Regions from separate parts of the Homo sapiens genome. Here region 2 is linked to region 1. The links come from fine-mapping of genetic effects on gene expression. A gene starts in region 1. The other region holds a variant in brackets. All regions are shown on one strand. Distances are between the middles of the regions.

Region 1 (4,399 bases):
AAACTATCACCATAGCAACATGTTCTATAAAAATATATTTTTTCAACTTATTTGACTAAGAAGAAAAGGATGTGAAATTATAGTAGAAGTGAAACAATAAAAAGGTTAGAAAAAAACAGGAAGCAAAACACGTTTACTAAATAACTATCAAGAGGATTCTACTGATACCTAATATACCACCACACTGCTTTATATAGTATGCCTTTAAAATATTAATAAAAGAATTTCTCACAGTAACAGGAAGAGACTCAAAAGCTAAGCAAAATAAAAACGACAGAAAGAACATGTGTACATGCCAAGAGTGGGCACTAATACTGTTCATTGGTGTACCGTACTGTGTGCTTTTTAGACTAAAAGATTTTCCAATGTTATAGTGAAGCCTATGAAATACCAACTACTCTAACAAGTTTTTATCCCATAAACCAAACAGATAGGAGTAAAAGATATGGGAATACATTTTCAATTTCATTGAATAGTAAGAATATTTCTGCTTGAAACATTCCTAGCCTGGCTCTCATTTCTACAATAGGAAACAGGATAAAAAGGGTGGCCTACACACCCTTTGAAATTCCATTTCTGAAATCACTGTCTTATTCTCGAATGTTAGAACTTTTTATGAGATCTGACATATTCTCAAGCAGCTGTGAAGTGCATTAAGGTATCAATGAGTATCCCCATCTACCTCTTCCCTCCCACTTTTCCAAAAATACAGCTGTCTTTGGAGACTTAAATGGTAAAAATCAACAGATAAAGGAGTCCTAGACAGATATGCAAAGTCACCTTAAGGATCAAAGCTGCAGAATAAGACATGGCAGTATGAGCATAATATAATAATAATTGATATTAGTAAAAGAACTCATCAATATAAATGGAGTGTGGATGGTCAGAAAAAGAAGAAAGTAAAAGAAAGCAAGATAAATATTGGCAATGCCTACTTAAATATCCATTGCCACGATAGGGATAACCTAGCTTCATGCTACCAACCATTCAGAATCGTAATTAATCCCCCATGCAGGAAGAAAAAAATATGATACTGGGATATGGGAGAAGGTCATCAAGCCTAGATTTGAAACCAGGATATAAAGAGCTGGAGTTACAGGCACCTACCACCATGCTCGGCTAATCTTTGTATTTTTAGTAGAGACGGGGTTTTACCTTGTTGCCCAGGCTGGTCTCAAACTCCCGGCCTCAGGTGATCCACCCACCTCGGCCTCCCGAAGTGCTGGGATTACAGGCGTGAGCCACCACACTCGGCCAGCGTTTTCCCTTAGACTCGAAATTTCGCTCCTATCGTCCCATCCTTGTAGTAAGAAAGTACTCTTTCTAAGGTTTAATAACAAATTTTACTCTTGGCAATTACAAGGAAATCGACTATATTAAAATAGCTAACGAGAGGAAATTACTGAAGCTACAAAGTCAAAGTCTCATAATCAAAGTTATCCTTGACAACTGACAAGAGTTGTTAGATCTTCTATTGGTCTTTCTGCTAATTCAACCCTAGTCTTAAAACAAAAATAGCCTCCTATTGCCTAATCCCTTGTACACACAAAACCACTGCACTTCGGTATTTCTAATACGAGAAAGTTTCTATATATCCAACCTTTCCTATCTTTGAGGGGCAGGCATGGTTAACGTGGTTCTCAGTAAGATATTCATTTACAACCAAGAGAAAATCCCAGGCTATCATCTCACATTCTTGTTTTACTTTAAAAACCTTTCTAACGTCATTTATTCTCTGACAACCTCAAAATTACTTTCTACAAAGCAAACTCTAGAAATCTAAAAATGCGAAGTGCGTGCTTGTGAGAAGGTACTAAGGAAATTCTTCCTTTAAACGTCAAATGTGAATTCTAACTTCTAATGAGTAAGACCCTCGAGATTTACAGCGGTGGTCTGGTGGAAAGAAAACCCTTGGCACTAGTAGCTCACAAAACCCCAGCCCATGGTTGAGGCGGAAGCGGCCAGATGCTCCCGGGCTTTCGACAAGCCGCCCTGGAAAGCAGGCCCGTCATCTTCAGCGGAAAGCTCTCTCACGTCTGGGCCCGCAAGCCCGGAGGGTTCGTCATAAACACACAAGGCAAGGATAGAAGCGAGGCCGAGGGGCTGGTCACGCAACTGTCAAACGAAGCCCACCCACCGACTGACAAGGCCCCAAGGGGACAAGCGATCCCCGCGCGGGATACTCACCCGTTACCTCAGGATCGCGACTACAACTCCCAGGAGGCTGCGCGAGCGACGGACCAACGCCCTTCCCAGAATGCAGCACAGCTGCATCCCTACCCCGCCCTCTCCTTTCTCCGCTCCTCCTGCTTTTCTACCCGTCGTCACCCGGGAGAGCCGGAGGTAGGGTTCGGGAGGAGGATCCCGAAGGCTCGGCGTGTCGCGTCAGACGCCGGGAGGGGGACGGGGCGGGGAGTAGTGGGGGAGAATGGGAGGACGAAGGGGAGGGGAAAGGACAGGGGAGGGGAGGGTAAATAGTGGGCCAGGCAGGAAGATGGCGGCGGTAGCGGAGGTGTGAGTGGACGCGGGACTCAGCGGCCGGATTTTCTCTTCCCTTCTTTTCCCTTTTCCTTCCCTATTTGAAATTGGCATCGAGGGGGCTAAGTTCGGGTGGCAGCGCCGGGCGCAACGCAGGGGTCACGGCGACGGCGGCGGCGGCTGACGGCTGGAAGGGTAGGCTTCCTTCACCGCTCGTCCTCCTTCCTCGCTCCGCTCGGTGTCAGGCGCGGCGGCGGCGCGGCGGGCGGACTTCGTCCCTCCTCCTGCTCCCCCCCACACCGGAGCGGGCACTCTTCGCTTCGCCATCCCCCGACCCTTCACCCCGAGGACTGGGCGCCTCCTCCGGCGCAGCTGAGGGAGCGGGGGCCGGTCTCCTGCTCGGTTGTCGAGCCTCCATGTCGGATAATCAGAGCTGGAACTCGTCGGGCTCGGAGGAGGATCCAGAGACGGAGTCTGGGCCGCCTGTGGAGCGCTGCGGGGTCCTCAGTAAGGTGAGCAACCCCTGGTGCCAAGGGACCCCTGGCCAGACTCACCTGCAGCGAGGCAATCCGCTGAGGCGGTGGGGTGGGGCTGGCGGGAGGCGCGGAACGTGCCGGGGTGCGAGGCTGAGTGTTGCTGCAGCGACTAGGGATGAGGCGGGGATATAGGGGCACTGTCCTTGTTGCCCGGGGGCTCGTCGGGGGCAGCCGAGGACCAGGGAAAGGGTGTATAAACCTGAGATCCAGTTTGGGAGGCCAGATGCGCGCCGTGACTTGGGACTTAGGGCGGCAGCTGTCCCGGGTGTAAGGAATCCGGGTTGGGCTTCAGCGGTGTCCGAACGACTGGGCATGGGAGCGGTTCAAGTCGGACCTCTTAAAAGAGGTTGGTCTCTCTGAGGATGCCAAGCCGAGTAGGTTGGGGGGCACTGCGGACGCAACTCTTTCGACAGAAGCTGGAGCGACTCAGCTTGGTGTTGAAATTTGAGGTGTTGAATTCTGCTAGGTTAGATGTAGTGAGACAGATGAATGTGGAGGACTTTCTCCCTCACCCTGTACCTTAGTTCAGAATAGAGATATTGAATCGGCACATGATGGGTACAGGAAATATTCATAGTAACTTGGAACATGTGAGAATGGAGACTGATCTTTAGTCCAGGAAGAGCATTACTTAATAATAAAATATTTTTGCGGTAAGGGGTCGAGGGTAAGGAAAAGATGTTTTATCTTTTATATATTTTTTAAAATCCCTGTATCAAAATTTTAGCAAAGCAGTCATTATAGGACTGCAGGTGGATGATCTCTTGATATTACATAGTTGTGGGGATTTTTTTTTTAAGTTTTTGCTGTAAGAAGATTCACGTAGCCTTTTTGACTTCTCTCTCCCTTCCTGTTAAACTTTTTTAGACATGGCTGGAGCTAGCAGTTAACTTGGAGAGGGGGAGCTGGGCCAGTCCCTCAACAAGCTGGTCATAAGATACTATGTCATGTGCAGCCAGTGGCTATTAAGAAATCACCCTGTTTCCAGTATTCATATTTGGCAAATCACTTGGACATTATTTGTGGAATTGTTTCATATTAGGCTTTTATAATGTCTAGAAAGCTAATGAGAAGGGGGCCAGGAAAGGCATGAGTAGTCAGAACTAAGGATTGCAAGTGTTGACTTTTATTTGTATAGCAGCAAAATTATGTTGTATATTGATGCTGTGATCATTCTTGAAATTTCAGTGCAAGGTTTTCAGTAACGAGAAGCTCCTCAGGATTTCTTTAGATTAAATGTATCCTGTAATTTAGGAATCTCTATTGAACACATTGTGTAGTAGGTATACATTTTCAGTTGGTAATAGGAAGTGGGTTACTTGCTTCTCAGTGATTTTGGTAGTTTCATCACTGCTCATAAGATGGGAAGCTGACTGCCATATTAG
Region 2 (4,399 bases), 110 kb before region 1:
GGGTGGGGGAGATAGACAGTGACCTCAGAACTTCCTCTCTCCTGCAATGGTGAGGTAAGAGCTTTTGTCCAGGTGTGACCCACATACCTACCTGATTCTTGGCTCTCTGGTCTGCTCCAGCTTTAACCAGCATGAGCATGACCTCAAGGCTCCCAGACCAGGCTGCAAGGTGAATTACTGTCAAGCCGTGCTTCCCCAAGAAGACAGAAAAAGAGAATCTATCACTCTGACAAGCTGCAGCCATATACTGCCTCATCAACAAAGGCCAAATTAATACTAGATTGTTGAAAACTAAGAAATAGAGAATTTAATATGCAGCAAAAGTGATATTTCGGTCCTATGGGGAAAAATGGTTATACTTAATAAGTGGTACAGGCAAGTGGTTCTCCATCTGGAAGAAAATAAAATGAAAAGCTATATCATACCATACTCACAAAATAGCACACAAACAATAAATATATTAGAATAAAATCCAGACTATAATGTATAGTCTCTTAATCCAGAGTTAGAACAGATAGATAATAAAGTCAATTAAAAATGACAGATTTTTAAAAATGTATCTTTAATAAAGATAAATGGTTATTCTCTAATGCATGAAGCACACTTACATATGGAGGAGAAAAAGACAAACTCAGAAAAATGGACAAAGAAAGGAAATGGAAATGATTATTGTTTAAGTATCTGGCAATATCTATCAGAATTAAAAATACAACCAGCAATCCCACTCCTGGGAATCTATCCCATGAAAATAAAAATGTCAGTACCTAATTCTATATATATAAGGATAGTAATTGTAACACTAAAAACTGAGTGCAAGATAAAAGCCTATCAACATAGGAATGCTAAATAAGTTATGGAATAGTCAGACTATATAATGCAAGCATTAAAAATAATGAATTGGTGCTACAACAATTGACTTGGAAACATTTCCATGAGCTTTGCTAAATATGGAAAATAAGATAGACAATAAATATGATATAATCCCATTTGTTAAAAAGGAGTGATTAACAAAACCCCATACATGTATATGTATATATCTATATCTATCTATAGGTGGGTTGGTGGGTAGGTAGGTCGATTGATCAATATAGATATGACTATGTGAGCAGGAGAAAAGTACAGAAATAAACACACATATCTCAGATTGTTAAGTATGGTTACCAGAGGAGGAGAGGGTACACACAGGTGAAAAAAACACAAGTTATAAAGAGGATCTCATTTATATAGATGCTACTTAAAATATTTTATTTACACAAAATTATTTAGATTTGTCTGTGTGCAAACACATGTGCATAAAGTTGTGAGACTGAAAGAGACCAGGACTTAGTGACCTGTAGGGATGCTGTGGGCAGTTGTATGCTGACTTGTCTACCAAATAAGGAGAAAAGTGTGGAAGGAAGCATAGCCAGCAGTTAACACTGGTTATTTTAGGGAGGTGAGATTCGAGGGAAATAAGCAAAAAAATGCATCTGCACCCCGGGCCCTAAGTTACAGAAGCAGGATAGGGCAGACACTATGAGCCTGATCTTCAGGATCAAGCAGAACTAATCTCAAATTCTGGTCACTTTCTATCACTTTCAAGTACGGGGATCTTGGTGAACTTAGTTCTAACTCTCAGCTTCAGCTTCCTTATCTGCAAACTCAAGTGTCTGTTTTTCTGTTTCCTTTAGCTCCATGAAAAAGTAATCCATTTCCTCAGTACAAGTGCCTACCCAAAGGAAGCTCTCACACTACATTTTATTTGCCTTTTCTAATCAGTTGTGTTTGTGATCTGGAAACTGTTTGTTAGATGTACACAGTATGAGTAAATGACTAAGGAATGAGGGCCTGCAGTACACTTCTATTTGTAAAGTACATAAGCCTTTTGGCATTTATTTTGGCTGCCCCCAAGTTGCATTAATGTATTCTCTTATTCTCAGTAGAATTCATGTTGGGAGAGTAAAACAGCAAGTCCCAAATTATTGAGGCATAACTCTAAACTGGTGATTCTCAACTGGGGGTGATTTTGCCCCCAGGAAACATTTGGAAAAATGTATGGAGATATTTTTTACTGTCATGCCGTGGGTGGGGGGAGGTTAATATTGGCACCTAGTGGATAGAGGCCAGGGACACTGCTAAACATCCTACAATACACAGGGCAGCCCCAACGACAAAGAATTATCAGGCCCAAAATGTCAATAGCACCACTGTTGAGAAACCCCACTCTTAATGTGCATATCCTATCAAATTTATATTTCAGCTATCACTCTAGACGGTGAGTTAGTCCATTTGTAGGTTTACAATTCCAGCATGAAGAAGACTCTTCATTTCTGGACTCTTTGTTCCAAAGAGAAATGATGAACAATGACTGACTACTTGAGGTTCTTCAAAACATGTTCCCTAAACACAATTCCACCTCTTAATTTGGAGTTCCCTACAAGTCAGCGCTCTATATTTAGTAATACTAAATCTGCTTTCAAATAGAGACCAGAAGGCCAGGCACGGTGGCTCCTGCCTGTAATCCCAGCACTTTGGGAGGCCAAGGTGGGCGGATCACCTGTGGTCAGGAGTTCGAGACCAACCTGACCAACATGGAGAAACCCTATCTCTACTAAAAATACAAAATTAGCCAGGCATGGTGGCGCATGCCTGTAATCCCAGCTACTTGG[A/G]AGGATCGCTTGAACCTGGGAAGAGGAGGTTGCGGCAAGCCAAGATTGCGCCGTTGTACTCTAGCCTGAGCAACAAGAGTGAAACTCCACCTCAAAAAGAAAAAAAAACCACCAGAAATATTTGAGACAGGTGACAAATCACTCTTTGATAGGAGATCTATTTTTCCCTAAAAGGTAATTCCTAATTTCAAAGCAGCCTACATTTTAAAATTCGAAGCTCCGATCATAAAATCTAAAAGCTGGGAATTCAAGCTGCAATCAACTTGAGTCTCTAAAACCACAAACTCAGAGTGGAGCCATTGTTCCTCAGAGGCAATGAATCACCGCTCACAGGTGTAAACTCCCCGAGAAGAACCTCCATAAAAGAAATTCTTCTGATATAAAACTGGCATGCCTGAGACTACTTAAGACCATGTGTCACAAATTACACTCACAGTTGGCTCACGAAGCTCTGTAAAGTGTACATTGCTCAATAGTCACTGATAACCTGTCCTCATTGCCAGTCTCGTCATAGGTGAGGCCAATAATTTCCTCTGGGGAACACTTCCATGTTAGGAGCTTCCCAGAGGTAAGAAGCTTTGTCAGCAGATGTTTTTATCCTCTGAGCACCACTTGCACCCACCTGGGATTCTTTACACCTGTCTGGAGTAAGAGCCTCCATTTATCCAGTCTGCCTCTTCCCAGGACTCGGGGTTGCTGCTCACTTTGGTCCCTAGCATGCAGTGCCTTGAATGGTACTCAGCTGGTACAGTCTCTGTCCTTGCTCCCCAGATAGACTGTAGGCCCTGCAAAGCCATGACTCTATTTCATACCAGTGCTTCCCAAAAACAATCACCTAGGAATTTTTTAAAAATGCAGATTCTGATTAAGGCCTGGGGTGGGGCCTGAGATCCTGCATTTCTAACAAGCTTGCAGGTGATGTGCATGCTTCAAGTCCTGGGACTACACTTTAAATAGCAATGACTTCTGTCTAATTGAATCCTCAGTAGTTGACACTGAGACATATGCACAACAGCCACTGAATAAATATTGATGGTGAAGGGGATCAACTGTTGGCTCTTTGCAAATGGTGTTAGAACTTAGAAGAAGTCAAACTCAAGGCTCACCATTCAGATAAAGAAGCTGCCAGATTGGGTCAAACATGACCTTGGTTGAATTATGAAAAACATTTTACTAGTTACAGAGTAATGCCACTGTAGATGATTTAATTAGTTATAAATATATTTAACTTAGTGAAACCTTCAAAGCAGGAAAAAGAGACACACCAGGAATTACTATATTTCCCACCTGACATTATTTCAATCTTCAGGCAAAGTTAAGAGAAATAGTCATGCTTCAGAGACAAGGTAATACAAATAGATGTTTAGAAAAACCTCAAGGAGAACAAGTTGGTGAAATATCTCTCCATCATTTCAGGAATAATTGATTTGCACTCTGACACAAACCAGTCCTGTATTTAACATATTAGAAACATGGCAATCCTCAGATATTCTGTTTAAAAGAAAAGATGCAATCTAATATGGGCAATGGATACATAGGTGTTTGCTGTATGATTCCCGCTACTTTGGTATGTTAGAGATTTGGGGTTATGGTTTTTGTTAAAACGAAGTAAGCACAGTCCACTCTGTCTCTGCCACCAAAACAAATAAAATCTCTGGAAAGAATGCATGGAACGTACACTTACTATATACCCACACAAATTTTAAATTAAAATTAAAAAAAAAAAGAATGCATGGAACAGCTGAGGACTC

Which allele goes with the higher level. Positions count from the first base shown, and alleles are read on the strand shown. Sizes are in standard deviations (SD) of each study's normalised expression.
With allele A in place of G in region 2, the expression in left ventricle of the gene that starts at base 2,211 in region 1 is lower (small effect, 0.36 SD a copy in GTEx).

The links. PIP is the estimated chance that this variant, and not a neighbour inherited with it, causes the effect. A credible set is the group of variants that fine-mapping cannot tell apart.
Region 2: its variant is the best candidate, but not a certain one, in a credible set for the expression of POLK in left ventricle (GTEx, PIP 0.76).

Annotation. Positions count from the first base shown.
Region 1 is chr5:75,509,703-75,514,101 of GRCh38, reverse strand. It overlaps POLK (DNA polymerase kappa), which reads right to left and starts at 2,211. Exons shown (of 15, transcript NM_016218.6): 1 at 2,188-2,211. CERT1 (ceramide transporter 1) reads left to right here and starts at 2,473. Exons shown (of 17, transcript NM_001379029.1): 1 at 2,473-2,990. The coding sequence starts at 2,895. RefSeq lists enhancers at 1,917-2,296, 3,047-3,116.
Region 2 is chr5:75,621,438-75,625,836 of GRCh38, reverse strand. It overlaps ANKDD1B (ankyrin repeat and death domain containing 1B), which reads right to left. Exons shown (of 14, transcript NM_001276713.2): 4 at 92-190. Among named protein-coding and RNA genes, the nearest start is that of ANKDD1B, 12 kb to the right of the region's middle. The variant A/G (reference allele first, on the strand shown) is at 2,649.